Linked DNA regions of Homo sapiens. The protein of the gene in region 2 interacts with the protein of the main gene of each other region in a pairwise test. Each region holds a gene or a part of one and is shown on either strand. Other genes may lie near its edges.

The links.
Region 1: the proteins of CALB1 (region 2) and BOD1 interact in binary tests that used the Homo sapiens proteins (3 or more experiments, as listed by UniProt).

Annotation. Positions count from the first base shown.
Region 1 is NC_000005.10:173,606,567-173,614,120, forward strand, and holds the end of BOD1 (biorientation of chromosomes in cell division protein 1), read right to left. Parts: intron 6,690-7,554; coding exon 6,565-6,689; exon of another isoform or gene 6,561-6,564; intron 3,105-6,560; exon of another isoform or gene 3,012-3,104; intron 2,869-3,011; coding exon 2,673-2,868; 3' UTR 2,672-2,672; intron 1,727-2,671; coding exon of another isoform or gene 1,699-1,726; 3' UTR 579-1,698; downstream 1-578. UniProt on the Homo sapiens protein: Required for proper chromosome biorientation through the detection or correction of syntelic attachments in mitotic spindles.
Region 2 is NC_000008.11:90,065,648-90,073,201, reverse strand, and holds part of CALB1 (calbindin), read left to right. Parts: intron 1-3,964; coding exon 3,965-4,048; intron 4,049-4,147; coding exon 4,148-4,204; intron 4,205-6,919; exon of another isoform or gene 6,920-7,163; intron 7,164-7,226; coding exon 7,227-7,304; intron 7,305-7,554. UniProt on the Homo sapiens protein: Buffers cytosolic calcium. May stimulate a membrane Ca(2+)-ATPase and a 3',5'-cyclic nucleotide phosphodiesterase.

The sequences.
Region 1 (7,554 bases), on a different chromosome or scaffold from region 2:
GTGCGGGATAGGCAAGATGTTGGGAGGGTCAACACAAAGTAGTTGTGTGGAGATCTCCCTCCCAGAAGGATGCCTCACAGGGAAGGAACTTCCCATTAAAGCTATGTGGTCCTGAAGAGGAGACACTCCAGTTAGTCTGAGCAGCTTTTCTGCAAGCACAGGACTGGTTAATTCTGGCCACTCCCTGTCTGCCTAGTAGTAGAGAGGAGTGGAGGGTCCATTTTCTGGGGTTAAGAACTTTGTTGACTCCTGCAACTGTAAGGCAGCTTGAAATGGAACTGCACCTACCAGGTGGGAACAGACCACACGTCAGATATAACTGGCACCTGCCTTAAACGTGTGGCCAGTTTGCTTTAAAATTAGGGCACATGCTACCAAGCATCTTGCTGAATATGGCACTGCAGTGCTCATACAGGGGTATTCATGGTAAAGGTGGAAGTGGAGCCTTTGTCTTAACAGGGAACCAACTGAATTGGTTAAAATTTTGATCAGATTAGCAGCAATATGCAGTAGTAGACTCAACCAAGAACCACAGACTTAGTTAGACATAATCTTGGATATATTATCCAAGGCTTATTATACAGAGTATGTTCAGAGGCCTGGCAGCATCAGCATCACCTGGCAGCTTGTCAGAAACACTCACTCTTAGGTCCCACCCCAGAACTTCTTAATCAGAAATATGCATTTTCCCTTAAATCCCCAGGTGCTACTTCTGCACACACAAGGATGACAAACACTGACACATACCACGGACTACCTCAACTAAAGACCAGTGTCAGTAATGGCTCAGGGAGGAGAGAAACAGCCCACTACTAGCTACACCTACTAGTTTCATAGTTCCAAGTTATATGTACCAATCTTCACTGCCAGTAGATCATGTGTGGTGCACAGAGGCAGAAGACAAAGGTTGCCCTTCACAGACCTGAGGTTTAAGCTTCAGCTGAAGCTTCGGAGTAAAAGTATCAAATAATTTTATTATGAAAGATAAGCCATTTATTGACCATTCACTTTTCTAAAAAAACACAAATGTGAGAATAAAATAAACATACCTAAGACTCACTGGCCCCTCCAGGACAGGAAGCAGCCCTGGACAGAGAGCCTGCAAACGAGTTTCCTTATGCCTAATGTCTGAACTTCTCATACATTCTAGGATTTCATGTTTCGTTACAAAGGAAAGGAAACTGGCTAGAAGATTCATGTACAAGAAGGTCACAACTTTAAAGCTATCTGACGCTAATGACTTGTACAATCTGGTTTGCAAACTCTGAGAGACAGTATCAAATAAGCACTGTCAAAGACTACTCCCAGCTAATCTTTACTGTCATTTTTCTTTGAAATTGTCTTTGGGACTGGCTATGTTCTCACTGTAGCTTCCGTTTATCCCACAGCACAAACCCTAAAGTCCATGTGCAGTCTCCATGTTCAAGTATAAAAGTCTGTTTCAGGACAACCCTGGGTTGCTGTAGTGTTTCTCTCTCTGTAGTGTCTACTTGGTGTCATGCCCTTGGACAGGCTGGCCAAATGGCAGCACAATGCAGGGGGTGACACGGTCAACTCTCCCACTGCCGAACTTGCTCCCCTTTCAATCTGGTCACTGCCCATGGTCAAGGTTGAAATCTTGAGATCAGTGACGACCTTGGCCTATCTTCAGTCTGAAGTTGCACTCTTATGTAACCGAATCCATTTCTTCACCAAAAATTAGCTTTCAAAAGGTGTCTGGCGTATTCTAAAAAGGAAAGATAATCATATCAAAATGTTATTTATTGATAACAGACTATATTCACTTTTATGTTCCTAAAGGAATTTACAATTAAAAAGAAAGACTTAAAATGAATGTTTTACACTCCATATTGGACTCAAGGGCTTCTCTCAATAGAGGAACAAAAAGACAGTCCTGATGCTCTTGCGTTGCTCATCACTGACACTCAAAACGCCCTAGTCAATTCACCTCACTTACTGATTATAACAGGCATCTCAGAGAATCTTAAAAAGAACACCAAATCAGAATGAAGGGATAAAACATATCCCAGCAGTCACCAACAACGGCGAAAAGTCCACTGCTAACTTCATCGCTGCTCCTACTAATGTCTCCCAAAACCTGCAAAAAGCATTCTTTTGTACATCTACAGCTGTTTAAAATTACATTTAATTCCAAATTTAATTTAAAAAGGGGGAGTGTTCCTAACAGAAGAATCCCATGGTAATTGATAGTGGTAAACAAACTCCTTCTAAATTCATGGAAATCGAGTCGCACTCAAAGCAGACTCTGAATCCCATTTAGGATATCACTTCAGAAGGCACTGCTTGATTTTAAATAAAATTGCAAGCCTAAGTTAACTCATGTCCAGGAGAGACTCATTTAAACATTTCAGCAAAATAAGACTTTCATTTGAATCCCCTTTATGCACACCAATCATCCCAGCTGATTTCTAATGAAGCATCTATCCATAGCTTACATGTTTAGCGCTGGTGGAACAGAAAATCAGTCACTGACACAGGAAACTGCTACTAATTAGTTCTCAGTAAAAAGTGACTTATAACAGTAGGTGAAGTCCATCTGCAGTAAATACTTCCTGAATGATCCTCAATTACGGCCTACCCCATTCCTATCCATTTTACATATCTACAAGCCAGAGATGCATACTCCTGGACAGAAGATAGGATACTGGACCTTAGGAAGTGTCCTGAGATGGAGCTGGAGGGTCCTGGCCTTCGGGCTCTGGAGGGGGTGCTGGCACAGCTGCTTTTTTCTGGGCCGCCAGGAACTCATGAATTGCTCGTTCTATTTGTGGCCTGAAGATGTGGTTAAGTTTTGGATCCACCACCTGAGAAATAATCCTGTCTACTCCAGCTTCCAACATCCCTGACCTTGTGGAGACAAACAGATCATTCTGTTATTTAGTTCCTTCGGGATTCATCTTTAGCCCCAATAAGTGTCACGTGCGAGCCCAATAAATGTCCACCTTCAAAGCTACAGCCCTTCTAGGGAGTTTAGAGGTCAATCCACTTACCATATACAGCTCACGCTATTTTCACTTTTGAGGGGTAATTCTCAACCAGCAGCTGTTATTCCTACTGCACAATCTCACCCACAATCACCCAACCTTGTACAAAAGAATCAAAAACAAAACTAAGTGAGTTGCTCCAAAACAACAAACAAATGACAGCATGGTGAGAAAGAGTTTGACACGTGTGGCACTGAAAAGCTTCCTCGTACTGTCAAAGCCAGTAAGCCCCGAATTGGACTCCATTTCCTTCAACATTTATTCTCCTAATAGCCTAAGCAGAAGTAGCTCCAGCAGCAACCTGTTTACTAATCCTTAAAATTTAAACAAGGCCGATCAGTCAGGGCTGGGAGTATTTACATCACCAGCAATTCACCATGGCCTTCAGCTGTAGTTGCTACCTGTAACACATAATAAGCAACTTGGAAGCAAACAAGAAATAGACAAACAAATTAGTTCCAAGCTCCTAGAGGGCTAAATTACATCCCCGATCCTTTCTGAAGTAGAGCAAAAATCAGGGCATATCAATGTCTATATTCAAACACTTGGGACAGGGTACTGGAAATGATGGTGAGAGGAAACAAATCATATTTGGACAGTCTGGAAAATAGCCCGTAAGGTTCAAAGTGAAGTGTTCTTCTCAAAGGACTGAAATATTCCAATACCATCACAAGCATGTGGGCAGGTTTTACTTATTTTCCCGTAGACTTGAGACTTCAGAGGCCATTTAAGCCTTCGGGTAAAAATAGGCTGGGCAGCAAGTGGGCAAATGGTCTGTCAGGGTACAGCAAAGGAAAGACATGAGTAAATGTACATCATGACAAAGAAGATAAGAAACAGGCTGTGAACTGGGAAAGATGATTAGTGTGTAAAGTGCTCCCTGGATTCAATGGTAACTAACAGCTTATCGACAGGAAGCCTAGATGTAAATACACCACCACTAGAGCACTGAAGGGCACATTTTCAGGTAGACCAGGCATTAGACAGTATCGGCCCTTAGTGATGAGCATCGTTAAATACAGCAAAGTTAGCATCCGGCTATGGGATGCTAACAAAGGAAAGCCACCTCTCCTCAGTCACAAGCCAATACCTTTCCAACTTTACCAAACCACTTCCTGAGTCGGATTCACAGGGTCCTTTACCAGATGTAAAAGCTTGATATTATCAACTAAATGCCTGTGTCCCCCAGACTTCCTATGTTGAAATCTAATCCTTAATGTGATGGCCTTTGGAGGTAGGGCCTTTGGGAGGCGATCGGGTCATGGGGGCAGAGCCTCCGCGAATGCAATTTATGCCCTTACAAAAGGGACCCCAGGAAGTTAGCGAGCTCTCTTTCCACCACATGAGAAGAACAAGCAGTTGGCAGTCTGCTGCCTGCAAGAAGGCCTTCCCCTGAACCTGACCATGCTGGCATCTTGGTCTTGGACTTCTAGCCTCCAGAATGGTGAGAAGTAAATTTCCATTGTTTACAAGCCACCTAGTCTACGGCGCCTTGTTAAAGCATCCCCAACTGACCAAAACCCCTGATCAGGGGAAACAAACTACCAAGGGAGTGCAGCTCACTTTCCTGGAGATTCTTAAACTTTTGAGGAAAACATAAAATCTTGTCAGGAGCCCAATGTACAAGATGGAAAAAACAAATATTGTACAGTTACAAGAGTTATTCGTCATAATTCAGTGCAATAGCACAGGCTAATTTCCTGTTAAACCCTCTAGGCTGTGGCACTGGGTTACAGCATCTGGGCCAGAACAGCCAGGCCAGTGAGCCAATGCTCTGAAGGCCTGCAGTGTCCACCTGGGGAGAGCACCTGGGGGCAAGCAGAAAGTCTGCGTTTCGAAACTCCAGTAGATTTTGCCTCAAATTCAAAATGCTAGCAAGAATTGTGGAGAAATGTCCCAGTATTAAAGCCAAGTTCATGTTTTCAGGTTAAACACATTCTAAGTCAAATCAAAAAGCAGGGAAAAAAAAAAAAACAACAACTTCACAGAGGTGGTAAAAACTATGCAGAGAGGAAATGATTAGTATAAAAGTCAGGAATATGGAAAACTTCCGAAAGGAGGAAAGTACATCCGGAGCTAGGCTGTTTCGGGGGTGTGAGTCCATTTCTCGATCTGGGTGATCAAGGGATGTTCTAATTATCTGTTTCACTGAACTTCTGTGCACTTTTCCGTATTACAATTCCTACTAAAGAAATGCAAGAGGAAGCGCCACATGCATACCTCTAGAATGACATCCATGCTCATTACAGAAATCAAAGCAATGTTAACAGCCTTCATACAATCATGGCAACTTTCCAAATATTTCAGAATGTTCAGTGTTTTGATTTACTCAAGACAGGGTAAACACAAGTGACTTTAGCTGTGAAACAGGCTTTTCATGAGGATGAGTGATATATGTAAAGACCAGTGCCAGACATGTAATAAAGAGTTGCTCAGTAAGGGGCAGCTACTGTCCCCTTCTTTCTGAAAGAGCCCGGTGCCACCAGTCTGTTCTCTGGAGAAAGGGAAAGGCACTCGGTACTGACTCCAGAATGACAAGGCACTGGGCATCTTCTGCTATCAGGCTTCTTCCCAGCATTCAGCCATATTGGAAGTACTAGCTTGTTAGTAAAACACTTTTAAAAACTTTAGAAATCTTAAAATCGCTGCATATTCACAGGAAGTTGTGAAGAAGAGTCCAGGGAGTTCCACACGCACCCTTCACCCAGCCAGCTCTAATGTCAGCACCTTGCGTAACTAGTGCAATATCAAAACCAGGAAAATGACACTGGTCCAATCCAGACCTTATTTAGACTTCAGTTACACTTGCACTTATTTGTGTGTGTAGCTCCGTGCGACTTTACCATACGAGCTGTTGCACGTGAGCACAGCACAATTCAGTGACACTTAACTGCACCATTGCAAGCTCCCCCTTGTGCTACCACTTGCAAGTCACACTCACCCCCTCCTCCCATCCGTAACCCCAGGCAATCACTAATGTGTTCTCCCATTTCTGTACCCTCCTCCACCTCCACTTTTGTGCGTCACTCAGATAAGCTATCAATAGCACCTTTATTAACTAAGGTTCAGTTTGTTACTGTGAAGTACGATACTTTATTAAGACTATGCCTTCCTGAAAGCTGTCACCATTACACTTTAGAGGTGGCAGTCCTGGTGGACTCAAAGAATTTATTTAGTTCACATTCACCTGTGAGAATAAAGATCCAACTCCTCTTGCCCAAGATCCAAACCCTGATATCTTGGTATAAAACTCACATATATGTTTGGACAACACTGAAACTTCAAAGAGCAGGGAAAATGTCTCACGATTTGGAATGCCTTTTGATGCACCCAGTAGAGATGCACACAGGAGGCCTTCACAGGCTGCAGAAACTGGAATTTCAACTGAGTACTTTGCTTCCTTTAACCTTAATTATAACAAAAGAGCAGACTGCTGCAACTCCTAAGTGATACTTGATATAAAGTCCCATCAACCTTGACTAAACAGAGACCTCAACCTTCTTGTGCATCACACTTGTGATGACTGCCTTTTCAAAAGCTTTAAATTCTGCTTACTTACTGAACCACACTCTGCCTCAGACCATTTCGCAACTGGTTTTTGTTCATCGTAGGATTCCATTCCTGCTTGTCCAGATGTGTTGACACAAAATTATCCACTTTCTGCCTCAGGTTTTGGTAAGCTGGCTAAAATGTTAAAAAGAGGAGGCAAGGTCAGAAGTTATATGCACCAAAGTTTTGAACTTAGTCTCTCAGAACACTGCTTTTCACAGAAACGTTATTAAGTCTAAATACACTTCCACTGTGCATGAAGATCACCATGCAATGTGGCAGTCAGGAATTAATGGTTAACACAAGTGCCCACCTGATGGTGGGTGGGCACAATGCCAGGCGCTTTACTTATATTATTCCATTTGCTTTTAAGTAACTCTACATGCAGCAGGCCTGACATCAACCCACAGCCTGGACCCACACCTGGGCAGCCTGCAGCCAAGCCACCAGCTGAAGCCTTCCTAGCTCAGCTGAACTTTGGTAGACCTGCCGCCCCATGAACATGTGAACAAGTGCTGGTTATAAGCTGCTGAGATTCAGTTTGCTATGCAGCATTACTGCGGCAAAGTTTGCTAACAGTCAGGGAAATGAAGTTGACAAAGGAACCAGCAGGCCTCAATTCCATGACTGGCCTCTTCCAAAAGGTTGAGAGAGCAAACTCAAAGACTCCACTAAACCTGGAAAAGAGAAAGGCAAGGAAATGGGGGCAGAGGAGTAAAATTCACAGATACCATGTGCTATCTGCCTAGTAACGCCTTCTTTCTAGTAACTGTCTTCCTCTCTTCACAAGGGTAGGGCAGAGGGTGCCACAGGAGTGGGTGCCTGAGCCACGCTAAGACAATGCAGACATTCCCTGGGATTTCCCAGATTGGAGCTGACAGCCTCTCTCTAGAGGAAGAAGCTGTAAAATGTAATCAAGAGATACTAGTAACCAAATGGATGACTCCACTCTGAACCAACAGTAAAACAGATATCAACAGAGATGAAAGACAGAACGAAT
Region 2 (7,554 bases):
CAAAGGAACTTTACCTCCATTTATTTACAGCCTATCCTGATGCTAAACAAATAGTTAATTACCTTTATATATTGCTTCAATAAAATATTTACTAAAATTTGTGCAGTTTCTGGGCCACAAAACAGTAAATAAGACACAGACCCCATCCTCAAGGAGCACGTAGACTAGTAGGGGAGACAAGCAAGTAGGAAGTTGTTGGTTTTTTTTCCTACTCTTGATAACAAGCAATCAGTTCTCAGAAATGAAGCTCTGAGGGATTCTACTTATTTCCTTAGCTACCTGCCTTCCACTCATCCCCTTGATATTCTTCACTCTCTTTTCCAACTCATAAAAAAGTTTTGGGAGTTCATAAAAGAGCAGGCAGGCAGCCCAAAGATTACAGAATCACCAATAATATTGTAATAAGAAGTATTGGATACTTCTATAAACAGCAGTGACTTAGCATATCTGAGAATAAAGCAACTCTACTTAACACCTCCTATATGAAAGACCTTTGGCACATTATAGACATAGTCATAAAGGCTACAGCTGGAGAATTACTGTGCCCAGCTCTGAAACTTGAATATTGATTCATACGCATTGAGAGAAGAACCGAGAGACAACACAGGACCACCACATTGTGAAACATATCTTAAGAAAGATTTCTTTACATTCACTATAGCCACATCCTATATACACATAATAATTTTTATATGCTTAAGACTCCTTTCTAACATTTATAAAATAGGATGGTATCATGTTGAGTGTAACATTAATGGTTCAGTGAAATTAAAACAGATTGAATATGTTGCACATTGATGTAATCTGTATTTTTTAATAATTTAAGTATAAAACCAAAGCAGTATGGGCAAGAAATACACATTTATAGTAGACATGAAGAGCATTTTTACTATCTCTGTATCTGACATTCAGGAGACCTCTCAACTTTATGTGAGTTACATGAACTTTTATGTTGAAACAAAGATGGCAATTTCCCTAATTTTACATTTAGTGATTGCTTACTAGTTCATTCATTTGTTTTTTTCTGTTTTTATGTATTCAGTGAATTTGGAGATGTAAAATATTTAAAGAAAAATTATTCTTTTTTGTTCAAAGCAACACACACTAATTATAAAAATCCAAACAAAATAGAGAATTATGATGAAGATAAGCAAAAAATAACTCAATTCTTTTAAGTAGATGTTTTTAATAAAGTAAAATTACCAACCAATCCGCAAGCATTTATTTCAGGCATATAACATGCTAGATACCATGCTGGGCATTCAGGGGATGCAGAAAAGTATTATTCCCTGCCCTCTTGAAATTAATGGTCTAGAGGAAGGTCACGCAAAAATTGTAAGAAGTATCTAACAAGTTGCATACTAATAAATAAAGGACGAGTTGGGGTTAGCTATTTCCTGTTTCCTAAATGAACACTTATATTCATGAAAAAAACATAATAAAATGTGGCTAGACCTTCTATATCATGCAGAACCCTCCAAAATGTATACATAACATCCATTTCCATTGTTCAATCTTTCCCTCAAAATGTCTGCCTCTGATATATTTTCTTCTCTTTGATGTGTTTTATTGTCTTCCATCTTTGTTCCCTCTTCTTTCTTGTGTTACTTTTTCTTCTCTTCCCATCTTCTTTAAAATCCTCAAGGAGATATTCTTCAGAATCCCTCCAGGAAAGTATTATTATAGAAGAGGCCAGGCTCAACAAGACTGGAGGGGTGTGGCTCTCCGTCCTCCAGAGCCCCTCTCCATGCCGAGCCCACCCACTGCCATTCTCCCTCCCTTCTCCTCTTCCCCCTTAGCTCTGGGGGGAGACCTACATTCTAGGCCTAACTTACCAGATATCTGGATACTTTATAATGAAAATCATTTATAGCTACTTTCCACTAGGAGCCCACTTACAGATGAGGAAAAAAAAGGGATTTTTATAAGGAAAATGGTGTTCTAGATTTCAATGAGTAGAAACAGCTTATCATATTTAAACTATCTCATTGTCACGTGTAAAAATCACCAACAAATTCATTATTTGCAGTCCAAGAGCAAAGAAGCAACCAAACCACTCTATTACTGTCTTCAACAAGCATGTTGTTGACTTAATCTACTAATAATCACCAAATTAAAGTGATTTTCAGTCTGCCAATCATCAGGTCATCATTCAACCTCTTTGGGCCTTAGCATCCTCAATTGAAAAATTTGGTCTTGAATTAAATTAAATTATGTTATTTCTGAGGTATAGAATTTTATGATTCAAGTATTCAAAGGAATTGAAAGAATGCAAAGGTCACAGAAGTATGTCCTGAGTTTAATAAGGGACCTGGATAACACACACACACACACACACACACACACACACACACACACACACACTGCAATGATGCAAATGTGTTTATGTACCAAAAGCTAATTACATTTTTTTAAAAGCACTGGCACATTATAAACCCCCATTTTTACTTTTTAGATATATTATCATCTACCCACACTAGTGACCTTTCTTTAAAAATAAATAAGAAAATGTTTTATAACTAGGTCATATTAAACATGTTGACATAAGGTTTGGCCCTTTCCCTTAGTCTCACCCACATGTGTGGTGCGTATAAATCGAGTGGTTTTAATTTGAAATATTATTTCAAAAATCTAAACATAAGATAAGCTAAAGGGCATACACAGGCATAAGAAAAATTAGATTCCTTGCATATAAAGTAGAATAGTGCATTTTATATTAAATATTAAATTTTTAAATGAACCTAAAAGGATGAATTTTTTAAAAAAAGTTATGATAGTATTTTCTATAACTTGGTAGAACTTTTAGAACTGACTCTGACTTTAAGGCTGATCTAGACTACAGGCTGTTGGCCTAAAATCCACGGATGAGGGTCCGTCCATGCCCGTGATCTAGGGAATTCATCAAATCCTGGAAATTAGATGAAATATAGTGTGTGTAGATTCATTATTTAATGGTGAAAATGCAGTGCTTCCAACAGAAGGCGTTTTGAACCCAATATATTCAAGAAACACTGGCTTCTATTTCAAGTCCTTGTTTTAGTGATGAGGGTACTGAAGTCCAGAAATGGCTCGGGGTTGCTGGGGACCACAGCTAATTAGCTACTGTGCCAGAAATAGATCTCACATCTGTAGTGGAGCCATCAATCCAGCTCCTTCCTTCTCTGTACGCAATAGATTAGTCATAAAATGGGATATGGAATCCTTTTTTCTTCCAAAAAAAAAAAAAAGAGAGGAGGATTGAAGTTTTGAAATGAGATCTAAGGGAAAATGTCATAGAGGCATGCCGTGGAGATCAGAAAATAAACCCCAGCCCTGGATTCAAGCAGTGGATGTCCTTTCAGCAGAAAGCAACAATTTGAGAACTGGCTTTTCCTATTCCTGTTTAACGCCCCACCATTCATGGTGAATTTCTTTTCCATTGCCTTACGATTGTCTTTGGTTTATCTTCTCTTGTATCTCATGGTAGGCTTTCTCCTCGGGCTTGGGAATACATTTTCCCCCTTCACTCCCCTCCCCAACATTTATGTTCCTCATGGTTTCTTTCACTTCACATGAAATTTATGGCCCCCACATGTGCCTTTCTGTGACCCTGTGAGGAGAGAGGAGAGAGGCATAGAACACTAATCTGTGGCATAGAACACTTGAAGGGTTCAAGCCACGAGGATGAATCTGCCTGAATGTCCAGCAGACAAGAAGTGGCCACGCTAGTTCTACCTGAGCACAGGTCTGCTGCGGCCACCTCACTGGCCAAAGAACCAAGCACACAAGGGCACACGAGCGTTGGAGAATCGACAGCGCTCCATAGGAAAGTACCAGAAAGGGAAAGCCGACTCTAATGTTTTTCCTCTCCTACTTTTCTAGCCTGTGAGGGAACACGTTGAAGAAAAACTAAGCAGCAGGTAATGGCAGAGACTTGTTTTTGAGCAACTTACAACACGTTTCTCTCTTCTTAAATCTTTTCCAGTTGGCTCACGTATTACCCACAGAAGAGAATTTCCTGCTGCTCTTCCGATGCCAGCAGCTGAAGTCCTGTGAGGAATTCATGAAGGTATAAGAAAGCTGCCCCTTTAAGAAAGCTGCTTAAAGTAGGAAAATTGTTCCTTTTATTAAAAATGTGTTTGTTTTCCTTATCCAAAATTACTTACAGACATGGAGAAAATATGATACTGACCACAGTGGCTTCATAGAAACTGAGGAGCTTAAGGTAAGCAAATAAAAACTTGTACTAAGTTTTTCCTTTCAGATGCAATTATGAACTAAGAGTTTCCTAGCTTTTTAAAAAACCTCCCACAAAAGAAACTAATGTTGAACAGTGTCACATTTTCACCTACTCTTCGACATTGTTAATGAAGTACCAGATCAAAAAAGCATCTTCAATTGCTTCTGGAAATTCTGTACAGTAATGCAAAAAATTAACATTTTTTGTGGTGTACACAAATATAAGACAGACAGACAGATAGAATTATAGATAAGCCGAATAAGCCATTCTTTTATTGAAATTTGTAGTTTTAGTTCTCAAAATAAACACATATATATATAAATTTTCTTACAAAAGAAAGAAGAAAAAGTTACTGAATAGCTACTGTATGCCAACTACTTTACACATAATGCCTTATTTAATCTTTGCGTAAGTTGTATGACATTGTATTACCCCATTGAGGAAGAGTTGAGAGAAGTTAAATGATATACTGAAGGCCACACAGAAATCGGACAGAGCCTTGATGTGCAAATCCAGGCTTGTCTGCCTCCAAGGCCTGTAGACATTCTACACAACCTACTGACTCTCAGCAATGATGATAAAAAATAAAAAATCTTCTAAAATTAAACTTTTGAAAAACTGCAACTTAGAGAATGAATTTATCACTTCGGATATCACAGAGGAGGATATAAAGGAAAAGGCAGAGATCTGAAATCAAGTCTTAACTCATTAATTACTATATCTTTCCAATTTTCTTTAATCTTTAAAATGAGTGTAATAAATCCTTCCTCTCAGGCTTATTGTGAAGCTCCAGTAAGATTCTGCACATGAAAGCTTTTGTGACATGCAACATAAAATAAATTATATTATTCATGAACTCAATTTACTAGCCTTTCAGGAATATGGAAGTATTCTTCTCATTTCCTCAAGCCGACCCCAAAACATCGCCATCTGAAAGACCCTACTTTTTCTATTTTTAGAACATAGAGTGACTAAAATATAAGTGAGTTAATATTTACTGACTATCTGTCAGGCAGAGTACAAGGTGCTTGAAGTGTATTTTAAAATTTAATCCTCACAGAAAATATGCAAGGCAGGTATTATCACTCCTAATATAAAAACAGTGAGATTGGAATGCAGAGAGATTTGATGATTTTTCAAGATTACACAGCTGCCTAGGAAGAGAACCTGGATTTGTACCTAGAATATCTGATAATGCTAAGAATGATTCCCCACCCCACCCCCACAGCACTACATGCTTTCAGACTTCATTTATTAAGAGCTGCTCTTTTGCTATGTGGGGAAATATGAATATCAACAGTTCTAGTCATAATTCAACATAGTTTGAGTAGCATACAATTTTAAAGATGGAACGGGGACATTTGGGCCATGGCAAAATGGCTAAAACATACTCAATTTTATCCTCTTGAAAATGTAAACGTTTTTAATGTGAAGTCACTGAAAACAGTGTATTTTACAAACTTGCAGCTCAGCAATCCACAAGGTGACAGTTAAGCCACTGTGTTTTTATTTTATTAGTTAGACCAAAAATATTCTTTTAAAGATCCTTTTTAGTTCATAATGAAAACCTTAGCTCATTTCCAATACTGACCTCTAAATATTCTAAAAGCCTCCTTCTTTGTTCTAAATTTTATTCTCAGAAAGAGATTCTAAATAGAAGTCCTCTTCCCTGGGGAATTTTGAAGATAAGTTGGCATTCTTTTTTAATGGATCTTTCAAGAAAGCTAATTTTAAGATCCATAATAGAGTAAAACATCACTTGCTCTCAGACACGACTTTGAATCTCTGCGTCCCAAGGTTTCTCCGAGGCTATTTTTGTGACCACCATTTTAGTCTCTGATGAGGCTTTTTAACCCAATTAATCTCTGACAAAAGCCCCAGAAGGCTCAAAAATAAAATTCAACCCCAACAGATAACTTTGAATTTTCCATGCTTCACTTTGGATTTGAAGTGGAATATTTGAAGTAAAAAATTTTTATCAAACTAAGAAAAGAGTCTCTTTCCTTTAAAAAAGTGGCATCAAATCAGCCCAGAACTGGAACATTTAGGAGAGAGATAAGTCATTGCTAAATCAAAGAAATCTAATCCTTCAATAATATCTGGGCACAGTATCTGCCTAGTTTTTCCTAATTGCATTAATTCATTTTCTGAGAAAATAAAGGAGTTACGAATGAATAGCACTAAACAAAATGAATGACTATTATAAAGTGCTTACACTGTCACTTATATGGCAAATCTTTGTAAAGCTTTTATTTATGTTTCTGTTAAAAAAACTTAAATTCATTCCTAAGCTCCAGGTGTCAAGTTAATAATCATCTTTTTTTCATCCTTCCCACATTAATCTCTATTTTAATATGATTCATATATCTTTCAAAGATTCAATGACATCAACTGTGGCCAATTTTGTTAATTTAAATAGTCAGTGGAAGCATTTTAACCAAAGTGCTTTGGACTGCATTAGGCTAAAAACTACCCAACTGGCCCTCTGGAGAAATAAGCATCATGCTGGCTATAAACTAATGTGTAAATACAGCCTGGGGAGCAGAAAATGGATTTGAAATTAGGGATAGATCTCTATTTGGTTTACTGATATTTTTTCACAATATTCCAAAGGTATAAAGGCCCTTGTGTTTCTTGCAGAACAATCCAATGAGTACTTGTGAAGATATCAGTAAGAAGAAATGCATCCATTGGGCTGGCTGGTTTTAAAAGGTTTTATTCAGGTTAATTGAAATCATAAAGTCATGGTAATGCACAGACAATGATCAATCAAGTCTCAGTAAAAAGCAGGTATTATTCCTGTCAAAGGTAGTTTCATTGCTGGAATGCCAGGAGGACAACCTGGTTTAGTCTTTCTTCTATTATAAGTTCCTCTACTCACCTGCTTCTACCCCTCAAAAGGAGACTTTCTTTGCATTCCTGGTATGTCCTGTTCCAAGGCATTCTGAAATGAAAGTAGACGATATATTATTAATGAAATTAATCTAAGTGTTCTTTGTTTTAACAGAACTTTCTAAAGGACCTGCTAGAAAAAGCAAACAAGACTGTTGATGACACAAAATTAGCCGAGTATACAGACCTAATGGTAAGACTGATCTTGAAAAGATTGTACCCAAGAGCTCATGAAGTAGTATGATGTTCTTGCTAACTCCCAAGGCTACACAGGATGAAATAAATAAACGGTGGTGTGGGCATCATATGCACATAGGTATCATTTCATTTGAAAAGTGAAATACTTAGGGATGCTTACATCTTGTCATTTTGAGTTCTGCAGGCATTGGCTTTAAGACTCAACATATGAGCATTTTCTTCCTTGTAGAGCTGTGTAATTTTTA